3 linked regions of the Homo sapiens genome follow. The protein of the gene in region 2 interacts with the protein of the main gene of each other region in a pairwise test. Each region holds a gene or a part of one and is shown on either strand. Other genes may lie near its edges.

Region 1 (3,651 bases), on a different chromosome or scaffold from region 2:
AGGGCTAGCGTGGACAGGCACTTTGGGTTTGCAGAATAAATCTTCTAAGGCGGATCTGAGGTTTGGCATCTAAAGGCATCTGGAGGCTGCTCTAGAGAGTCAGGTAGGAACCCAAATTGGGCAATAGCAACTGGGTCACACGAATTGCGATTATGGAGGTGTATGACTTCCTTGTGTAGCTCCTAAAAGCTGGCCATGAGGCTGGTGCCAAAAAGGTTTCCCACACTGCTTAGCCCTGGCTCTTTGGGAACAGGGCAGTCCAGCTGTAAAAGGGCTCCAGAGTCAAACAGCCCAGGGCTGCTGTGTGGCCTTAAGCAAGTTAACTTGATTGCCACTCCTCACCTCTCTCATCTAGAACACCTCTCTTAAATTCATCGTGAAGATTATGGATATAATTATATCCAGCCCTTAGCACCACGTCTGACATGTGGTAAGGACTTACTATTTTTTTTGAGACAGATGCTTGCTCTGTTGCCCAGGATGGAGTGCAGTGGCGTGATCGCAGCTCACTGCAACCTCCGTCTGCTGGATTCAAGCGATTCTCCTGCCTCAGCCTCCCAAGTAGCTGGCATTACAGCACCTGCCACCATGCCTGGCCATGGTAAGGACTTAATCCTGGTGGCCACTATTATCACTGTCCGTCTAGTACCGTACGTGCCCCTCACTTCTGCTCCTTTCATTAAATACAAGGGCAGAGGGAAGCCTTGTGTGAATAACCCATGGGTAAGGTCTGTCTTTGGGCTGTAAGTTACAGTTCAATGGGCAAAACAGGTTTTTTTTCCTGCCAACAGTGCTAGGAGGGGCCTTAAGGTGCTGGAGGGCAGAGGATCCAATCTAGGTGAAGGAAGGGAAGGGTGGGAGATAGATCCAGAGTAGAGGAAAAGAGAGTGAGGAGGGGAAATGGGCAGGGAGCCCCTTTGGAGAAAGCTACCTGAGCCTAGAGATGGGCTCCCCCGGCCCCCACCCCCATGGTGGCTGAGAGCTTGAGGAAGAGCATGGCGTGGGGGTGGTCAGAGCATTTACCTCTGGAGGACTTGCGGCGTGGGGAGTCCCTTTTCTGGAGCTTGCTAGAATGGGAAGGACAGATGTGTAGGTAAAGCACTGCTCCCTCCTTTCAAGAACTGCCCCACCCAAGCCAGCAGTGGGTAGGTTACTATAGGCTGCTGGCGCAGCACAGGGAAATGGCTATGCTTGCTTGCAGGGTCAGGCCTTCCAAGCAGAGAGCAAGAAAGGTACAATCTGCAGCCGCAGCCCCCAACATAGCTGCTTCTGCATGGAGAGCCCCTCTTTCCCTTTGCCTGGCAAAGTCCTAATCATCCCCCAGGACCCAGCTCAAGGGTCACTTCCCCTGTGACGCACATTTCCCCTTCCCTGCCACCTTCCTGCCTCAGTCTCAGGCCCGGGATGGGGAGTGGGGTCTTGCTCCCTTTGTGCCCCTAGCACTTTTCAGAAGCCTTTATCATGCTGTAACTTATCCCCTTGTCTACTTCTCTCCACTAGAGCACAGAGACAGGGACTGGGTCTCACTTGTCCCTCTGGCATGTGGCAGGTGCTCACTTATGGGTCTGGGAATGAGCCAGTTAGACACTCAAACTGGGTCCCCATCTGCAACATAGGATGGCAATGCTTGCCTCCTTCCACTGGTAGGGTCACTGAGGCTGGCCAGAGCCTGGCACACCAAGGAGACCAGAAAGTCATGGGAGCATCTGGCAGACCCCTTGGAGGGCAGAGGTCAGGTATTGTGAGTAGCCAAGGAGGATTTTTAAAAATGTTTTCTAGTGAAGACATGAATTCTAAGCTTAGGGAAAAAATACGATCATTTGCCTTTCAGGCCAGCTGTACCCAGACTCCCAGACCATGAGGAGAACCTATGTGCCCCAACTCGGCCACACAACAATCAGCGCAGCACGGCCTTGCTCACTTCTGGGTGTCCTCAGCTAATGATGCTTCTATATAAGAGGAGGATGCTACAGACTTCAAATGACAATAGGATGCTTGCGGGGCTGGGTGCATGTACCAAATCCCCAGAGGACTCTGTTGGGGCTTAGTCTGTGGCCAAGTTTACAGCCAACTCTATGGCCTATAAGGGGCTCAGTCTGGGGTAACAGGAGGAGTCGATTCACTCTACACACTCAGGGATAGACGCTGTCCTCTTCAGCTGCACCAGCCACAAGGCTGGTGCTCAGCACTTGCTGGCATGACAGCTTCCTTGTGGCCATGCCACAGGCCTGAAGTGGTGGAAAACACCCCTCCCTGGAGTCACTCACCCCCTGCACCCATGGGTGCTGCAGAACTTGGGCGGCGCTAAGTCTCTGCTTTGCATCTCGCACCAGGAGCTTGGAGATGAGGTCTTTGGCTTCACTGGAGATGTGTGCCCAGTCCTTGTCAGGAAACTCATACTTGCCTTCCTGGATGCTTTCAAACAGCTTGTTCTAGGTACAAAAGATTCCTCCTGAGGCCACACTGCCAGGGATGGGCAGGATGTGCCTGTCATTGTTTTGATCAACCGGCTTCAATTGATCTCAGCTGTAGCTGCAGCTCATGGCTTGGGGATGCCACAGACTGGGGCCTCTTCCCAGACTCACCCCGCACTGTCCCCTAGATGATCAAACTATATAGAATGCCCTTGGCAGGCCAGGATGGCTATGCCCTTGGTGGGCTGGATGGGTGATGAGTGGAGATCACCCATAGAACAAAGCCCAAATTCCTTGGCTCTTCCTAGAGGACTCTCTGTGAACCTCTCAGGCCTCATCTCCCACTACCACCGACCTACTACTCCACTCTTCCTTCCTAGACACTCCAGCTATTTCATGTGCCCACATCTATGCCCGTGCTGTTCCTTCTACTTGTGATTCTTGTCCCTCTTCCGCAGGGCAGGATGCACCCTTTAAGAGTCAGTTCAGGGCTGGGCGCGGTGGCTCACGCCTGTAATCCCAGCACTTTGGGAGGCCGAGGCGGGAGGATCACAAGGTCAGGAGATTGAGACCATCCTGGCTAACACGATGAAACCCCGTCTCTACTGAAAATATAAAAAATTAGCCAGACGTGGTGGCCGGCGCCTGTAGTCCCAGCTACTTGGGAGGCCTAAGGCAGGAGAATCGCTTGAACCCAGGAGGCAGAGGTTGCAGTGAGTCGAGATCGTGCCATTGCACTCCAGCCTGGGCGACAGAGAGAGACTCCATCTCAAAAAAAAAAAAAAAAAAAAAAAAAGAGTCAGTTCAGGCATGATCTTCTAACAATCCTGCCCTGAACTCCCAGCTGGGCGGAGTGTCTGATTATCTCTATTTTACCTTGTGGCCACCGTGACAGGAGCGGGAGAGGGCACTATGAGCCCCCATCCCGATCAGGAACGCTCTCCCAGCCCAGTCCTGCTTGGCATCCCCCAACCACACTGACCCCTAGCAGGGTCTACGCAGTGCTCCCTGGGGCCGCACTCACCTGGCACACCCTGCAGACCTCGCCCCGGTCCCAGCCACAGTCGGCCCCGCAGTGACCCACGAAGGGTGGGTAGCCACTCAGCATGATGTAGAGGACCACGCCCAGGCTCCACAGGTCACAGCGCTTGTCGTAGAATGTGGCCTGGTCCGTGAAGACCTCCACTACCTCAGGGGCCATGTATTCTGCAGAGCCACACTGTGGGGGCCAGGGTTG
Region 2 (3,651 bases):
AAAGTATAAGATTTAGATCAAGAAAAAGTATGATTATTCCTCAATTGGTCATTTTCATCAGCTATTCAGAACTCAGAAAACAGTATCAAAGGACTTCTTCTTGGAAGCAAAGATATAATTAAGATGTCCAGGTCTGAATACAAACCACTTTGTAGCGCATCACCTGTAGTCCACATACCCATGGAAGAGTTCCTGAAGGCCTCCGAGGCTTCATCAGGAAGAATACCTGTGGCTTCCTCATCTTCATCCTGGGGCTGTCCAATCTGCAGGCCCAAATACTGGTTGTCGGTACCGTCTAACACCTAAACGGTTCAAGGGGGGCTGTGAGAATTTTGAAGTGTGATCACCAAGAGACAAGCCCTCCAACATGGAAGTGCAATGAGGAAAGAGCACATTTTACACACAGAACACAAATGTACTCATCTGTCATTTATTTCAAGGCACAGAAATGCACGCATGGAAACTGCTAAGAGCTTACTGATCACTCATTCCCACTACATTATGAAAAGCTCTATTAGCTCTAAAAACTCCAAAAAAATTCCAATGTGGACATTTCTTTTTAATATGAAAAAGAAAAAACCCATACAAAAATATTTGTCTTCACAAACAAATTTTACAGCAAGTTGGAAATATGAGGACAAAGCTTTTCGACAAAAACCTAACAATATAACAGGTTATCTCCTAAATTGCAAAGACTAAATCTACTAAATTTAGGGTATGGTATTTCATATGTTTAGCCATCAGCTTGGGGCATGATTCCACATCACAAGATGTTTCATGTCCACTTGAAATGTCCTGTGTAATTTACCTAAAAAAACTGAACAATGGACTACCAGCAAATTATTACCAAAATACTATTTTATTAAGTTTGTTAACTACTATACTATTAAGTAAAACACTCAATGATATGAATGTTTTAAATTAAAATTGGAATGTAAAAGCAACTCCATTTCTGGGTATTTAGCCAAAAAAATGGAAAGCAGAGTCTCCAGGAGCTATCTGTACACCCACGTTCATAACAGCATGATTCACAATGGCTAAAACATGAAGCAATACAAGTGTCCATGGACAGAGGAATGGAAAAGCAAAATGTGGCCTATCCATACAATGGAATAGTATTTGGCCTGAAACATTAGGAAGTTCTAACATAGGCTACAACATGCATGAGCTTTGGGGACATTATGCTAAGTAAAACAAATACTGTGTGACTCCTAAAGTATATGAGAACCCAAAGTAGTCAAATTCAGAAGACAGAAAGAAGAATCGTGGTTGCCAGGGACTTGGCGGGAAAGGAGGAATAGAGTTCAATGGGAACAGAGCTTCAGTGTTACATGATCAAAAGGTTACAGAGATGGGTGGTAGCAATGATTCCATGACATTATTTAAATGTATTTAATACCAGCGAACTGTATACGCAAAAAATGGTTAAGAACATAAATTTTATGTTACACATATTTAACCACAGTTTTTAAAACTGAAAATAAAATGGAGTATAAAACTCAACATGGACTTGTAGCAAACATTATTAGACTATCCATGAGGGTTTTTTGTCCACTAACTTAGAGATGAGAAGTGCTTAAACCTATGCCGCTATCAAATGGGAAATGTTGTAAAAGTTTTTTGAAAAGTCAAAAGTTCTTAAAATAATGCACAGTATTAATCACATTTCATTAAGACCACAGATCTGTTTATAATAGGCTCCTTAAGGATTTTTAAAAATAATTATTTAACCAGGGCCCAACAAGGCCTTAAAAAATGTAAAATGCACTCAATTTTAGCAGAGTTCATATAATCAACTATTCCAATTTTTTACCTCAGTGTTCAACACAAAAGACACTAAGTTGTTTCCTTCAGTGAAGGTATCAGATGAGGTCAAGCTCTCCATTAATGATCTAAGCTGCGCTGTCAATAGGGGTATTAGATAACAAGAGAACAAGCAGGAGGGTTCAGGTCTAGGTCTCCAGGGAAGAACTCAAAAGATGGCAGGTGGCAGGGCCGGGCATGGTGGCTCACAACTATAATCCCAATACTTTAGGAGGCCAAGGTGGGTGGATCATCTAAGGTCAGGAGTTTGAGACCAGCCTGGCCAACATGGTGAAACCCTGTCTCTACTGAAAATACAAACATTAGCTGAGTGTGGTGGTGCCCACCTGTAATCCCACCTACTCAGGAGGCTGAGGCGGGAGAATCGCTCGAGCCTGGGAGGCAGAAGTTGCAGTGGGCTGAGAACGAGCCACTGCACTTTATTTTTTTATTTTTTTTGAAATGGAGTCTTGCTCTGTTGCCCGGGCTGGAGTGCAGTGTCACGATCTCGGCTCATTGCAACCTCTGCCTCCCAGGCTCAAGCAATTCTCCTGCCTCAGCCTCCCTAACAGCTGGGACTACAGACATGTGCCACCACGCCCAACTAATTTTTGTATTTTTAGTAGAGACAGGGTTTCACCATGTTGGCCAGGCTGGTCTCGAACTCCTGACCTCAAGTGATCCGCCTGCCTCAGTCTCCCAAAGTGCTGGGATTACAGGCATGAGCCCCTGTGCCCGGCCTCCACTGCACTATGGAGTGAGACTCTGTCTCAAATAAAAAATAAAAAAAAAGATGTCAGGCCCCTCTGCCCACTTACAATTTCAGAACTGTCTGAAGGGGTAACAGCTGAATCAGGCCCTTCGGTGGTGGTCTGGGAGCTGTCGCTGATGGGCGACGAGGCCTGGGTCCCATCATTCAGGTCCATGGCAGGGTCAGATGGGACGGCGCTGACCTGGCTGGAGCTGTGGCTCAAGATATCCTCCTCATCCCCATCAGTGGCAGAGCTTGTCAAGTCACAGCTGGCCAGATCCACTGAGTCCGCCTGCAGTGTGTGCTGTGACCGTGGCTGTTCTGTGATGATGTCATGACCTGCTGACCCTGGAGTGGAAACCCCTGAAGAAGCAGCCAGCTCTCCACTGATCTCATCCTTCACTGAGGCTGAAGACAGAGAAACACTCATTTGTCAAATGGCGAGAGAAAACATTCAATAGGGAATCACAGGCTTGCAAAATAACGAACAGTTCCACCGTTATCAAATGTTTCAGCTGCACAGCATCCTGAAGATGCTGAAATGCAGGACAGCAGTGCATCCTTCAAGCATCTCTCACACTGCCTCCCACTACAGTACCCACCTTATAAAATAAGGCTTATCAGAAGGTGATATTCTCAAATGCTGTTTCACTGCAAAAACCGAAGTTCAAGTTCTTAACCGACTACTCCAAGCCTTAGCTGGAGCAATATATAAAGACATTTGTAATTAAGGGGCAGCCTAGTCAGGGGCGCAAAGCTAGGCGGTCACAGACACGCAGGCCCTCTAAGCAAGCAGTGGTCAGAAACAACTGTCAACTCATCTCTCTGGGGTGGGCTTGCCTTCTTCCAAGCCACATTCAAGATCTCGACTCCAGTCCTATTCTCCTGGAAGATAAACCTGTAACACATTTTCCTAGTTGACTTTCTAAATTACCATTTAAAAACAAAAAAGGCTATATAAAAATTATGGCAAAAAGGTCGACATGAAGCTGTTGGCAGTGGTCACTCCTGGGGCAGTTGGGTCGGTAAGCATGTGAGCTTTATAGTATCCGGATTGCTGTGATGTTTTATTGTTGTTTAATTTGTGTAATCAAAAA
Region 3 (3,651 bases), about 140 Mb from region 2:
AAAATACAAAATTAGCCGGGCGTGGTGGCGCATGCCTGTAATCCCAGCTACTCGGGAGGCTGAGGCAGGAGAATCACTTGAACCCTGTAGGCAGAGGTTGCAGTGAGCCGAGATCGCACCATTGCATTCCAGCCTGGGAAAGGAGGGAAACTCCGTCTCAAAAAAAAAAAAAAAAGAAAGAAAGAAAAGAAAAGAAAATCTGGGTCAAGCCTGTAATCGCAGCACTTTGGGAGGCCGAGGCAGGCGGATCATGAGGTCAGGAGATGGAGACCATCCTGGCTAACATGGTGAAACCCCATCTCTACAAAAAGTACAAAAAATTAGCCAGGAGTGGTGGCGGGCGCCTGTAGTCCCAACTACTCGGGAGGCTGAGGCAGGAGAATGGCGTGAACCCAGGAGGTGGAGCTTGCAGTGAGCAGAGATCGTACCACTGCACTCCAGCCTGGGCGACAGAGCGAGACCGCGTCTGAAAAAAAAAAAAAAAAAAAGAAAAGAAAATCTATAATGTCGGGTAGAAGTGATGTAAAGTGACCCTTTTATAGCAAACTTCCCGGGGTTTAGTGAACTCAGACTTGAATCATTTGGCTTTGAAACATACAGAGCAAATATGATCAACGGGAATGATAATCAACATTTTCTGTATAAAAGCAAGGAATATTTTCCGAGTAGGGTGTGTGTTCCTGACACCTTGTAGGACCAATATGATAAGTCAGTATCCCCAGTTCTCAGTACACAAACCGAACCAGTACACAAGTTCACATCCCTGAAAGGATCATTCCAGGAACAACATTCCAAGGGACATTAGTCTCATTGCTCAAGGGGCTAAAACACAAGGCAAGAAAAAAGACTAACTTTAGGGAGAATTGAAGAGATACAATACTAGAATAATTCACCCTAATGTGTGGCCCAAAGAATCTAGGTTTTCCAAATCCAGCACAGTCGAGCACAGAGTAGAATAAAGGCCTATTAAAAGAGAGGGTCTCAAATTTAGACTTTGGCAGTTATTTACAAATGATATTAAGTATTTATTAAGTATAAGCATTTAAAATATACTACAATTTTTATAAGCCAGTCTGGTACTACTTTTTAAGATATACCAGACCAGGCCGGGCATGGTGGCTCACATCTGTAATCTCAGCACTTTGGGAGGCCGAGGCGGGTGGATCACCTGAGGTCAGGAGTTCGAGACCAGCCTGGCCAACATGGTGAAACCTCATCTCTACTAAAAATACAAAAATTAGCCAGGCGTGGTGGCAGGCGCCTGTAATCCCAGCTGCTCAGGGGGCCGAGGCAGGAGAATCGCTTGAACCCGGGAGGCGGAGGTTGCAGTGAGATGAGATTGCGCCATCGCACTCCAGCCTGGGGGACAAGAGATACCCAGACCCTCAAAAAAACTGGAGTGATCTGGGCCTCTTTCAGATTCCAATGACCCCTAATAGTCGAGGATTTTGATTGCAAATGGAAAACTGCTTTTGGCTACTAAGCATCTGTGGGGTCAATTCATAAAAATCTAATATAGAGATTATTTTAGTACAGGACATGAAATGGAAGGGGAGAACAAGTATACAGGTTTTGGAGTGCCTTACATTCAGCATTTCCTCCTGAAAGTAGCCTAAGATTCCTGGCAATTAAGGCTTCCAACATTTGAGATTAAAATCACATAAACTTAGAAATGGAAGGGAACAACTTCCATCCCTACTGTGAGAGAACAAGGCCAGAAAGGGTTCTCAGGGATGGCTGGTTTATAAATGTATAACCTTTTAGTTTAAGATTCCTTTTGCAACCAGTGAGTTAGCAGTCTGGCAAAGTTTGTTTTTGGCACTGGTACATATTAATATAATCAGGGGTATAGTGATGTCCAAATGAAATTCATCCTTCTAGCTTCCCAGCCTATCACATGGCCTAGTCTCAATCTCTGTTTTTTTTTTTTGGTGGCCTACACCTCAACTAGAGTGGGTTTGAGCCATGAATTCAACATTAAACAGTAGAAAGATGACAGAACAAAGGAATCTGGGCACAAGTGAAAGCTGGCAGATTAGTAGAGGACAACAATATAAGTGACAAGTTTGCAGTTTCCTGACTCCTTGAGGCTCTCAAAATTCTGAAGATTATGACTAGCCTTAAAAAAATTTCTAGGCCGGGCTTGGTGGCTTATGCCTGTAATCCCAGCACTTTGGGAGGCCGAGGCAGGAAGATCACGAGGTCAGGAGATCAAGACCATACTGGCTAACACAGTGAAACCCCGTCTCTACTAAAAATACAAAAAAAAATTAGCTGGGCGTGGTAGTGGGCACCTGTAGTCCCAGCTACTCAGGAGGCTGAGGCAGGAGAATGGCGTGAACCCGGGAGGTGGAGCTTGCAGTGAGCCGAGATTGCATCACTGCACTCCAGCCTGGACGAGAGCGAGACTCTGTCCCCTCCCAAAAAAAAAAAAAAAAAAATTCTGAGGATTAGAATATGTATTTTGGTTTGGTTTGGTTTGGCCATCTTACATAGTCCTATGAAACTGCTTCTAGTTATGACTAAACATCTCTTTATTCATATTTCTTTTTTTTTTTTTTTTTTTGAGACGGAGTCTCACTCTGTCACCCAGGCTGAGTGCAGTGGTGCAATCTTGGCTCACTGCAACCTCCGCCTCCCCGGTTCAAGCAATTCTCTGCCTCAGCCTCCAGAGTAGCTGGGATTACAGGTGCCCGCCACCACGCCCGGCTAATTTTTGTATTTTTAGTAGAAATGGGGTTTCACCATTTCTTGACCAGGCTGGTCTTGAACTCCTGAACTCGTGATCCACCCACCTTGGCCTCCCAAAGTACTGGGTTTACAGGTGTGAGCCACCGGCCCGGCTTTATTCATATTTCCGTAGGTCCAAACCAAAATATAGTGACTGTGTACTCTTAGAGTTTACAAAGAATTTCTGCTTATTCTACTTTTATTCTTTACATTTTTTGTAGAGATGGGGTCCCGCTATGTTGGCCAGGCAGGTCTCAAACTCCTGCAAGCAATTCTCCTGCCTTGGCCTCCAACGTGCTGGGATTATAGGCGTAAGCCACCACTACAGGCTCTACTTTTATTCTTTTTTATTTATTATTATTTTTTTTGAGACAGGGTCTTGTTCTGTTGACCAGGCTTGAGTGCAGTGGTGCAATCTCAGCTCACTGCAGCCTTAACTTCCCAGGCTCAAGCGATCCTCCCATCAAAGCCTCCCAAGTACCTAGGACCACAGGCACACACCACCACGCTGGGCTAATTTTTTTATTTTTTATTGTAGAAATGAGGTCTCACTGTGTTCCCCAGACTGGTCTCAAACTCCCGGACTCAAGCCTCCCAAAGTGCTGGGATTACAGGCATGAGCCACCGCATTACTTTTATTCTTTTTTTTTTTTTTTTTTTTTTGAGACAGAGTCTGGCTCTCTCACCCAGCCTGGAGTGCAGTGGCACAATCTCAGCTCACTGCGACCTCCACCTCCTGGGTTCAAGTGATTCTCCTGCCTCAGCCTCCTGAGTAGCTATGATTACAGGCACCTGCCACCATGCCTGGCTCATTTTTGTATTTTAGCACAGATGAGGCTTCACCATGTTGGCCAGGCTGGTCTTGAACTCCTGACCTCAGGTGATCTGCCCACCTTGACCTCCCAAAGTGCTGAGATTACA

Evidence for each region.
Region 1: the proteins of HTT (region 2) and MKNK1 interact in binary tests that used the Homo sapiens proteins (3 or more experiments, as listed by UniProt).
Region 3: the proteins of HTT (region 2) and MGARP interact in binary tests that used the Homo sapiens proteins (3 or more experiments, as listed by UniProt).

Annotation. Positions count from the first base shown.
Region 1 is NC_000001.11:46,559,211-46,562,861, forward strand, and holds part of MKNK1 (MAP kinase-interacting serine/threonine-protein kinase 1), read right to left. Parts: exon of another isoform or gene 3,641-3,651; intron 3,634-3,640; coding exon 3,439-3,633; intron 2,464-3,438; coding exon of another isoform or gene 2,433-2,463; coding exon 2,268-2,432; intron 1,068-2,267; coding exon 1,024-1,067; intron 602-1,023; exon of another isoform or gene 460-601; intron 1-459. UniProt on the Homo sapiens protein: May play a role in the response to environmental stress and cytokines. Appears to regulate translation by phosphorylating EIF4E, thus increasing the affinity of this protein for the 7-methylguanosine-containing mRNA cap.
Region 2 is NC_000004.12:3,126,575-3,130,225, reverse strand, and holds part of HTT (huntingtin), read right to left. Parts: intron 2,963-3,651; coding exon 2,622-2,962; intron 303-2,621; coding exon 179-302; intron 1-178.
Region 3 is NC_000004.12:139,270,140-139,273,790, forward strand, and holds part of MGARP (protein MGARP), read right to left. Parts: intron 1-3,651. UniProt on the Homo sapiens protein: Plays a role in the trafficking of mitochondria along microtubules. Regulates the kinesin-mediated axonal transport of mitochondria to nerve terminals along microtubules during hypoxia.